Regions from separate parts of the Homo sapiens genome. Here region 2 is linked to region 1. Evidence: fine-mapped expression QTL. A gene starts in region 1. The other region holds a variant in brackets. All regions are shown on one strand. Distances are between the middles of the regions. Region 1 holds the start of KCNMB1 (potassium calcium-activated channel subfamily M regulatory beta subunit 1). Region 2 has its middle 22 kb from the start of KCNMB1.

Evidence for each region. PIP is the estimated chance that this variant, and not a neighbour inherited with it, causes the effect.
Region 2: its variant is the best candidate, but not a certain one, in a credible set for the expression of KCNMB1 in whole blood (TOPMed, PIP 0.50).

What each region holds. Positions count from the first base shown.
Region 1 is chr5:170,386,384-170,391,754 of GRCh38, forward strand. It overlaps KCNMB1 (potassium calcium-activated channel subfamily M regulatory beta subunit 1), which reads right to left and starts at 2,984. Exons shown (of 4, transcript NM_004137.4): 1 at 2,876-2,984. It overlaps KCNIP1-OT1 (KCNIP1 overlapping transcript 1), which reads left to right and starts at 3,110. Exons shown (of 3, transcript NR_109899.1): 1 at 3,110-3,220. It also overlaps a transcript of KCNIP1 not described here. RefSeq lists enhancers at 1,099-1,599, 1,600-2,100, 4,025-4,525, 4,526-5,026, 5,279-5,371.
Region 2 is chr5:170,364,835-170,370,205 of GRCh38, forward strand. It overlaps a transcript of KCNIP1 not described here. Among named protein-coding and RNA genes, the nearest start is that of KCNMB1, 22 kb to the right of the region's middle. The variant C/G (reference allele first, on the strand shown) is at 3,001.

The sequences.
Region 1 (5,371 bases):
AGCCTGCAGACACCTTGGTGATTTTGGACTTCTGGTGAAATTTCTGTCGTTTGAGGCCGTCAGGTTTATGATCATTTGCTACAACAGTCATAGGTCCCATGCGGTGAGCGAGCAGTACATGTGCATCATCCATGCACCTCCTTCCACGGCACTTATCTCACAGGGATACTTGGAGTATTTCTGCCCAGAAACAGTTCTGTGGCAGGGCTAGCTGGGCCGGGCACAGGCAGGGAAAGGAGAGGAGGGCCCCAGAAGGCAGCTGCAGGTTGTCAGGAGAGGCAGGAGGTTTACCATATTCCGGTGTTTTTTTTTTTTGTAAGGAACATTCCCCTACTTCAAGCAAAGAAAGAAGAAAGAAGGCATCATGGTGGCCTCAGCGACTGCTTTCTTATTTCAGGGCTTGAAGCCACCTGGGACAAAGCAGAATGGGCACATTCTGCTGGTGGTTGCTTTCCTTCTCTCCTCTTTCTTTAGGCAGCAACTCCTTGTTTTTCCCCTGGACATTGACTCCACCCCAATGCAAGCAAAGATTCCACCCTCCCCTGCTAGGCTCCTGATCGCTCCCCCAGGAGTGTGAGTCTTGACAAAGACTTCAAGAAACAGCCCCTCAATCTATGCCGCCTGGAGCCACAGAGATGCCCAGCCATGGTCCCCGCGTGATTTCCCATGGTTCCGCAAGCTGTCCTAGAGCCTCTGGTAAATTTATTTGCTGTTGTTTTTATTTGTTTAAAGTAACCAGAGTCCATTTCTACCAAAAATACCAGGAAGCTATCAATGTAATCCTCCATTTTAGGGGAAATTTTAGGGGAATTTAGGGGAAATTTTAGCCAGATATCAGGGGGACTTTATTCTCCTTGCCAGGTCCCTAAAGTAATAAACATATTATGGTTTTTGTTTGTTTAATTAGCCAGTGTCCGGGTGACAGGCCTTAGTCCAAAGAGATTTTCTGCAAAGTGCTCTATTTTCTGCTCAGGCGTCTCTTAACTACTAGACTGTTTCAAATATTCAGAGATTCTTGACTCCCTCCCCTTAGCCAGGCTGCCCTCATACCCGGGCATCTCCGCTAAAGGGAAGAGACCAGGGTCAGGCACCACGGATACCCATCACACCTTCCCAGTGAGCTGGTCCACCTCCCCTATCGATCGGCAGAGGTGACATCCAATGACAACTTTTTCTCCTTTATTTGGCACCAGGAGGTGAGTTTCTCCTGCATTCTAATGGAGACATTATAAAAGCACAAGCAAGCAGAAATTGCCCCCGACAAAGAGAGATGTTTTATTCAACTCTTTTTATTCAATCCTTTTCCTCCTGTTCTGTGATCTTGTGGGAATGGGAGAGCCCATGCCTTTTTCTACCTGGCGTCAGTTGAACAAGACTCTCCATGTATTCACAGGTAAAGCAACAGAATCACCTGGAGGTAAGCTAAAAGCCCCAACAGCCTGCTTCCCCAGGACCTGCAAGGGTCACTGGCACTTGGCCCCACCCCAGATACTGTGAGACATAAATCATTTGAAGCCAATGGGAAATCCCATCTTGGAAGCCTAGGGCTGAGTGCCCACAACAAAGCCATTTCTCTCCTGGGGGAACTGGATCGCACCTGTGGGGGCTTCCTGTGGCTCCTTCCTGGCTAATCAGCCCCCCCCAGCGCCCAGGGCCATGGCCTCCTCTGCTATTTGGCTTCTAGTGCCCTCTCAGGCCCCTGGGCACTCCTGAGGCTGGTGAAGGCAGGAACCTGGTTTTACCAGTTTTAGGAGCTCAGAAGGAAAGGAAAGGAGAGGCTTCCCTGTCACAGAGAAGTCTGGAAACTTGGCTTATTCAGGTCTGACCCGTCTCTAATGGTCTGATGAGATTGTTGCCTGCACTGAGTGAGTTTATAGAGTCATGATAAATCCTCCTAAGACCATGCGTGGGGTTCAGTGTAGATATGACTTCAGCAAGAAGTTAGTATTCAGCATCCAAAGGGAGAACCTTTGGCGGGAGGAAGGATGGGAACTGTCAATATCCCCCAAGGGACAGAAAGAAAAGGAAGAAGTGGGTTTCAGCTATCATAGGAGGGATTTCAGTTAGACTGTAAGAAGAACTTCCCAGTTTTGAGCATTTCTAAATATCTCTGAAGTTCCAGGATATATCTTCCCATTTAGAAAGGTCACTTGAGATCTGGGATAGATTCAGAGAAGATGGAGAAGGACAAAGGAAGGCAGGACTTTGGAGTGTCCTGGGTGACCTGATAGCTGGGTCGACATCCTTTTCCTTAGAAGGACAAGGAATAGAGTACATTGTTGAACAGTTTGGTGGGGTGTGGACAGGGCGATTCTGAGGTCCTCAGACATGGAATCAAATCCTGGCTCTGCCACTTACACTTAGCAACCACATGACTGTGAAACGAGAACCATGGTACCTGCCTCAGAGAGTTCAGCTAAAGATCAAATGCCATATTGAGTATCAGACATGTATCATAGCACCTAGCCCCAAATCAGCCCCCAGTAAATATTAGCTATTACTACTAACGAAGGAAACCCTGAAAGTTTGGAGCAGAAGTCTGGACCCCTCTTGATGAATCTATTTTTGTCCCACCTCTCTACCGGTGACAAGTGCCAGCATTGGTGTTAATCTCCAGGCTGCAGCCTTCTGGCCACTCTGAGAACTGGGACCTAGAGGGCCAGGGCGCTTACTACCAGAGTAACCTGGCCACTGTGCCACCCTCCCCACTGGCCACCAGACCACGGGCCCTCCATCCAGAAGGACAGCCCCGAGAGGAAGGGAGTCCTCCTGCCTGCCTCCCTCCCTGCCCCGTGGCAGGCTGCTTTCCCCTGTCTCCCTCCAGCCCGGTCTTCAGAGAAATCACTTCCCAAGTGCTTTCAGGCCCGGTACTCACAGTCTTCCCGGCGTCCTGTGGGTCTTGAGCAGCAGACAGTTTCTTTCTGCCTGGACCCCCGCCCCCACCCCAAAAGAGGCCACAGAGCTTCAGCAGGAAGTTTGGCCTCCCCGCCCGTCTCCAGGGAAGCAGCTTTTGGTCCCCATCTGGGGCAAGCCTCCATGCCCAAACATGGTCAAGTCTGAGCACACAGCCTGGAGACACAGACTCGGAGAGCAGGTACCCAGCCCTGAGGAAGGCAGCTGTTACCCAAGCCCTGCACCTCCATCTTCCCAGAGTCTCGTGGGAAACAGATTTCAAACAACAACAGACAGCAAGACTGAGAAACTACGAAAGATCAGCCTGGTATATTTGGAAATATTTCTTCTTCTCTCTGTCTCTGTGGGCTGGCAAAGATGCCAGAAATAGGAAATGATTCTCCTTTTGTTGGCATGAGGAAGGGTGGAGTTGGGCTGGAGGGGTTGGGCTTGTCACTAGTCCCTGGCATATCCACGCTGGAGCAGCTACAGCTCCCTGCCTTTGGCACTTACGTGCTGTGTGACCCTGAGCAAGTTATGGCACCTCTCTGGGCCTCAGTTTCCTTTTTTGTTTTTGGTTTTACTCCCAAACTTATCGTTAAATGACCTCAGTTTTCTCACTTGTGTTACTGGCATTTTTAAAACCTACTTTGCTTTAGGGTAGTGATGGGAGTTAGAGACGGTGGGGATTTATGGCAAGGGGAGAGAACTGACTTTTTAAGGACCAACTGAGCTGAAGCTGGGAGTAGTGAGAGCTCCACAACTGCTTCCAACCAGGTCCAGGGACAGTCTGCTCACCAGGGGCCCTCCCAGAGACCGCGAAAGTACAGAGATTTCTTCCTAGCAATAAGACAAGTGAATGTCAGCATTTGCAGGCAAAAAACATGCTTTTAGATCTCTGCTTCTTCATCTGTAAAGTGGAAGTAAGGATTAAAAATCAGCAACAAAGGGCAGGCACAGTGGCCCACGCCCATAATCCCAGCACTTTGGGATGCCAAGGTAGATGGATTGCTCAAGCCCAGGAGTTTGAGACCATCCTGGGCAACATGGCGAAACCCCATCTCTACTAAAAATACAAAAATTAGTCGGGCATAGTGGTGCATGCCTGTGGTCCCAGCTACTTGGGAGGCTGAGGCAGGAGAATCGCTTGAACCTGGGAGGCGGAGGTTGCAGTGAGTCAAGATTGTGCCACTGCACTCTAGCCTGAACAGAGCGAGACCCCGTCTCAAAAAAAAAAAACAAATATATATATATATATATATATTTTCAACAAAACAACAAAAACAATCCCAGATATTGGGGCTTTCCTAAGTATCAGGCGTGGTGGTAGAAGGCAGCTTATCTCCACCCTTCACTTGACCCAAGAATCAAAGAACCTGAAACTGAGACTTGGAGGCTTGAAGTCACTGGTGCAACCCTAGGGGCCAGAACTAGATTCGAAGCTGGCCCTTCCAGATGGCACAGCTTGGTCTGTCTCTGATGACCCTGGGGCTGCTCTGAGACATTAAAAATCACCTCGATCATACAGTAAGCTGCCACCTGAGGCTCTGGAGGTCACCCTGAGTTTCCCCAGCCCCCAGGGAGGTGGGTGCAGCCTGGCCTTCCCTGCTGAGCGAGCTCACCACCTTCCTCCCTCCTGCCTCCAGCAGGCGCGAAATGAAGGCAGCCACTCAGGCCTCCCTGACACACTCTCAGGCGGTGAGTGCCCTTCTCCACCCCTTTCCTAATTGAATCTTATTAACAGGAGACTACAGTGTCTGTTTAATGGGCACCATAGCACCAGAGGGTCTAAGACCAGCTTCAGACCTTGCAGGCAGATTGACAGAGGGATGTAGGATCTGGAATTCAATCTCAGAAGAGCAATTTTCCAAGGATGATCCTCTGTCCACTCAGAAGCAGGAAAAGTCCTCCTGGGGCTAATCCAGAAATGCCAGGCCCCCCTCCTGCTTCCCTGGGGGAGAGATACACAGTGCAACAGGCTGCCATTTATGAGTATAACCGAAGGGCTCCTTGCTCGTGATACTCTGAATAAGTTATTAAGGGCTACATATTATTTGGAAATCATAAACAAACTTTAGCATTCTTCCCAAGGGAAGGTGGGAACAAACAGGGAAGGGGGGCCGTGGGGTCTTCTGCTCCCCCTAAATGAGCCACAACCAAAAGGCATTGACAAGCCCTGTCCTCGAGGGTTTGTGGGTGAAAACCCAGGTCCTTTGCTGGCTGCGGGGTTGTGTGTGACAGATGGCTACAGGTGGAGGGCAAGAAAATAACAATGCTGCAACAATAAATATTGACGGTTTGCATTAGTACGGGGTGTCAGAGATCACAAAATATCTTCTCTGACTCTTCCAACAGCTTCTTAAGGTACTAGCACAATAGGCTCACAATAGACCACTGAGGTGGAGATTTTTCTACCCATTTGATAGAGGGAGTAACTGAGCCTCAGAGAGGTGAAATAAATTGCCCAAGCAAGTTACTT
Region 2 (5,371 bases), 22 kb before region 1:
GCCTGATTATCACAGTCAAGCTAATGAACATATCCGTCTCTTTTCATAGTTACCTTTCTGTGTATGGTGAGAACTACTCTCTTAGCAAATTTCAAGTATACAGTGCAGTCTTATGAACTACAGTCTCCTTGCTGTGCATTACTCTAGAGCTTGTTCATTCTCCATAGCTGAAACTCTATACGCTTTGGCCAACATCTCCGTTATTCATTTGTTTATGATCCAGCTCATCCACTAAGAGTCGAGCTCTGTGAGGGCAGGGAATTTTGCCTGGCCTTGACTACTTCCCCAGCACCTGGTGCAGGGCCTACCACATGGTAGGCCCTCATTGGGAGTTGAGAGGTTGAGCTGGCAGATGAGGAACCTGAGGCCTGGGGAAGGCCACCCAGCAAGCCAGACGCAGAGCTGGCCTTGAATCTGGGCTTCCTCCTCTTTCCATTCCCTACAGGCTCGGCACTGCATGCCCTTTAAAGGTTCCAGTTCTGTATCCACCATTTCCACGTCCGTCTGTCCATCCACACTTCCTCCTTAGCAAGGCCGCCCATGTTCCTGCATCCAGGACATGAGGGGTTAATTAAGATAGTCATCTGGCTTCTCAGGCTACCATCCTAAGAACAGCCCTCCTCAGTTCTGGAGCTGGCGGGCCATTTGGTTCATCTTTGATTTGTTCTTGCCATGGAGAGAGGGGAACCTGCCGCTGGGAAAGGATGGCGATGGTTTCCAGTGTGCTCTGCTCCATTCAGCCAAGGGGCTCCTCTGGGAGGGCATGAAGTGAGCAGTCACCAGCGAAGGCATCTGGGGGCTGCAGACGCAGCTGGCTTCCATGGCTGTGTTCCCCTCCAGCCCTTGAGGATCCAGGACTTTCTGGAAACATGATTTTGGAGTTCACTGGATGCTGAATCCATTACCACCAAATTGTGTGACCTTGGGAAGTCCAAGGGAGTCACTCCTTCGAGCCTAGCCTCCTTTTCTGTAAAATGTGTGCAATAATGCCAATACCACAGGTTTATTAAAGTAACGCACTTAAAAGTGTTTAGTGTAGGGCTTGTGTCAAATTAAGGATTCAACAAATGATGGGTGGTTTTGCTTTTATTTGGCTTTGCTGTTTATCAGGGCTGAGCTTAAATCTCCCTCATTGCATCCTAGGCAAACCAGGGACCTCCCATGTCTTGGGAAACGGCTGAGTGACTGAAATCACCCACGTGGGCCAGAAAAGAGTGAGAGATGTTTTCAACATACTCTTTGCCTTTCCTTTCCCTACCCGGGATGCGAGTATCAGTGACAAAGAGTTTTATTCTAGGGAGATGAGACAGGAGAGCTCACACTGTATTCATTGAGCAAGCTCTTCATGTCCAGAACCTTTAAAATCTCCTGTACACTCCTGCCCCACTCCCAGCCCACACTCTCCTACGGATGAAAAAATAAGAAGGGGCAGTAAAACCTTGTCTTTGTATAGAGTCCACCGGGGGCTCAACAGAGGAGGTGGAGGAGGCCTCAGACCTGGATGTCGTGGCAGTCACTGCACCCTGGGTCAGAGCCCCCTGAGGACACCACCCTGGAAGGGAGAAGCTGGCTGGAACCACAAAGCCCCATGGACAAGCAAGCTCTGGCACTACCTTTGAGCATCTGCTGTGCCTGCTGGCCTGTCTCACAGGGCACATGAGGTAAAAAGACATCAGGCACAGGCTCCCCCATGTTCATTATATCTGGAAATTTCAGTCTGGCCAAGGGAGCTTCTGAGAGCCTGAAGGTGGCCAGTATGTGACTGGAAGTCAAGGCCACATGGCACAGTGACCAGCGTGAGACTCCTCCAAATGTCCTCAGTGTAAGGGTGGGGAAACTGAGGCCAGAGCAAGGAACACCCTTGAGTAAGCTACCCTCAAAACGGAGCCTCCTCTGGCTGGTAGCTGGGGGCACAGGGATGGAGGGTAGCCTGGCCCCTCCTGGAAGTGGTGGCCACCCAGCAGATGGCTCTTCATTGCCACACAGCCGATGACTCATAGACTAAGCCCAAGCAAGACCCCTCGCCTCCTCCCTTCATCTCTGCACTCTCCCCTTCATGGCCTCACCTCTGGGGGAGACTCCCAAGTCTCTCTCTCTTGCCTTGGCTCTTTTCTTAAGCTCCAGGCCTGCAGGTGACTCCTTGGCTGGACTGTGAACTTGTTGGAAGGGCAGGGGCTACATTTTAGTTATTTAAGAACGTGCAGTCTGGCACGGTGGCTCACGCCTGTAATCCCAACACTTTGGGAGGCTGAGGCAGGTGGATCCCTTGAGGTCAGGAGCTCGAGACCATTCTGACCACAGCGAAACCCTGTCTCTACTAAAAATACAAAATTAGCTGGGCATGGTGGCACATGCCTGTAATCCCAGCTACTTGGGAGGCTGAGGCAGGAGAATCGCTTGAACCAGAATGTGGAGGTTGCAGTGAGCCACAATCACACCACTGCACTCCGGCCTGGGCAACAAGAGCAAAACTCCGTCTCAAAAAAAAAGAAGAAAGAAGGAAAGAAGGAAAGAAAAAGAAAGAAAGAAAGAAAGAAAGAAAGAAAGAAAGAAAGAAAGAAAGAAAGAAAGAAAGAAAGAAAGAAAGGAAAGAAAGAAAGAAAGGAAAGAAAGGAAAGAAAGAAAGAAAGAAAGAATGTGCAGCACCCAGCACAAGACCTGGCATAGAGTAGGGGCCTAACAAATGGATGGATTGATGGAGGATGGGAGGAAGGACCACTAGACCCTTCCAGTTGAATGTCTTTCTATAGCCCCTACTCAATCCTTGTAAAACCAAAGGAGACCTCTCTCTCCTGATTTTACTCTTTCTCTTTACATGTCCCAGTCTCGAGCCTTGTTCTTTCCATCTGTCACTCCCTTTCCACTCTCAGAACCGTTCCTGAAATCTGAACCTTTCTAACCTCTCACCCGCTTTGCTGCAGCAGCCTGCAGACTGCGTTTCTTCCCATTTCTTCCCTTTCTGACTCCTCCACACCATTCCAAAGAGATGGCCCATCTAAC[C/G]CATTGACCCAGAAGCCCTACTTCTAGAAATCTATTCTAAGCAAATCATCACAGCTGTGCATACGGACTTTTATTTAGAGGTATTCATTATGGTATTATTGCATTATTTATAACAGTGAAAAACTGGAGGCAATCTAAGTGTCAATGGAAAAAATTGTGTATTAAATAAATTTTGGTTCATCTGTCTGATGGAACAATATTAAACTGTTGAAAAATTATTTTAGGAACTAATTAATAACCTAGAGAAATGCTATTGATATCGTATCAAGTAGGAAGCCAGGAGAAAAAAAACTGTATGATGAATGCAGTTCCAGTCTGTGGGAATAGATGTGTATGGAAAAGTAAAATAGAGAAGAAATACACTGAAACATTAGTTTAGGTTTTAGCTTGGATTAAAGGTGAGTTTTTAAAGTTTTTGTTTGTTTGTTTGTTTGTTTGTTTGTTTTATTGAGACAGAGTCTCACTCTGTCACCAGGCTGGAGTGCAGTGGCGCAATCTCAGCTCACTGCAACCTCTGCTTCCTGGGTTCAAGTGATTCTTGTGCCTCAGCCTCCCAAGAAGCTGGGACTACAGGTGCCGGCCACCACAGCCAGCTAATTTTTGTATTTTTAGTAGAGACAGGGTTTCACAATGTTTTCCAGGATGGTCTCCATCTCCTGACCTTGTGATCCGCCCGCCTCAGCCTCCCAAAGTGCTGGCATTACTGTTGTGAGCCACCGTGCCCGGCCTAAAGTTCTTCTTGATGCTTCTCTGCATTTTCTGAATTGTCTTCAATAAGCATCCATATTTAATCAGAAACCACAAACATATCATTCACTAAATACACATCTTCAATCATACAGTTCTCAGTATGGGAACGCATGAAAGTTCTGCTTTCACTGGCATATCACTGGCTGTTCATGCCATGTGGCAATACACCCCGAACTACCAGATTTGGCACTCCCAGCCCTAACCCCACAGTCTCAGACCTCAGCCCACTCCCTAGTCCTGTGTCCCCGTGACCAAACCCACACACGCATTCTCCTCCAGCCAAACTGGTCCCCACATGTTTCCAAACCAGCCTTCTGTTCTGTGCTCCTCAGCCTAACTCTCAAATGGTTCAGAAACACAAATTCGCATGTGCACAGAGAGAGACAGAGACAGAGAGAAAATCCAAATATGATAAAATACTGATCATCATTGGTGAACCTAGATGAAGGGGAGGCATGCTTACAATTTGCATTGTAGTTGGATATTTTCAAAATAAAAAGCTGGGGAAATAAAGGAGCAGTGTAGTATAGTATTTAAGGGCATAAATTCTGCATGAAATTACCTTATTTCAAGTTCCAGTCCCACTGCCTATTAGTTGGGAAGTAGTAACATTAGGCAAGGTACTTACTTTCTAAGACTCAGATTCTTCATCAGTAAAATGGGGATAATGAAAATCCTGGTGTATTTGTTTCCTACAGTTGCCCAGAGAATGGAATGTATGTGTGTAAAGGGCTTGGCGAAGAGTGCCACACACCCTTGATCATGAACTGTTAGTATCAGTGCTAAATATAGAAATCAATTTATTAACCGTGACTCTATTCATGATATTCTCTACCTCCATAAGCTGCTCATCCCTGGACAACTAAGTAAAGTGCTACAGCTTTGGAAACTTTTCTTGCACGGTTCTTTTTCTGCCACTAGCCCTGGAAGCTGCTCCAATGCGGTGCCTGCCCCGCTGGTATCCATACCTCCAGGCCCTGGCACAGAGCCTGGCAAGGGGGAAGAAGCCATTAAATGCACTGAACCCCAAATGAGAATCTCAAAGGGTTCAAGCTGTACTTTAAAGAAAACTCTTCTCATCAGGACCAAGTTTGCACTTTTGCTGATGCAGCCACTCTATTCCCATGGGCTTCCTTGAGATAAGGCATCACCTTGATAAATTAGCTGTAGATATAGGCGTCTTGCAGTTGGCATGGGAAAGCAATTTAATTTCCAATTAAGCCTGATTTCTGGGCCAGGAGGTTGGCCTACCTCGCACTGGAAGGATTATTCTGGCCAGGCCTATTATTATCACGGGTCATGATTCTCCCATGAAGTGGACTCTCAAGGAAGCTGGTCCTTCAACCATTGGAATGGTTCAGTGAGGCAGAAATACGGCCTCTGTGGGTAGGACCCTTTTTCCCCAGGAATTAAGTTTATACAAGTAGAGTCAGGGAAGTTCAAAGCAAAGATAGGCAGTCTGTTTGTGGCCAAAATTGTTAAGTCAGGGTACCCCTAGAAATGAAGCAAGAGGGGAGAGAGAGAGGGAGGTGAGGCAGTCATCAATCAGGCCCACAAGCAAGAGAGGCGGGAAGTTGCTAGTAAGAAAAAGACGGCAGGAGGTAGTTCTCTGAGCCCAAAT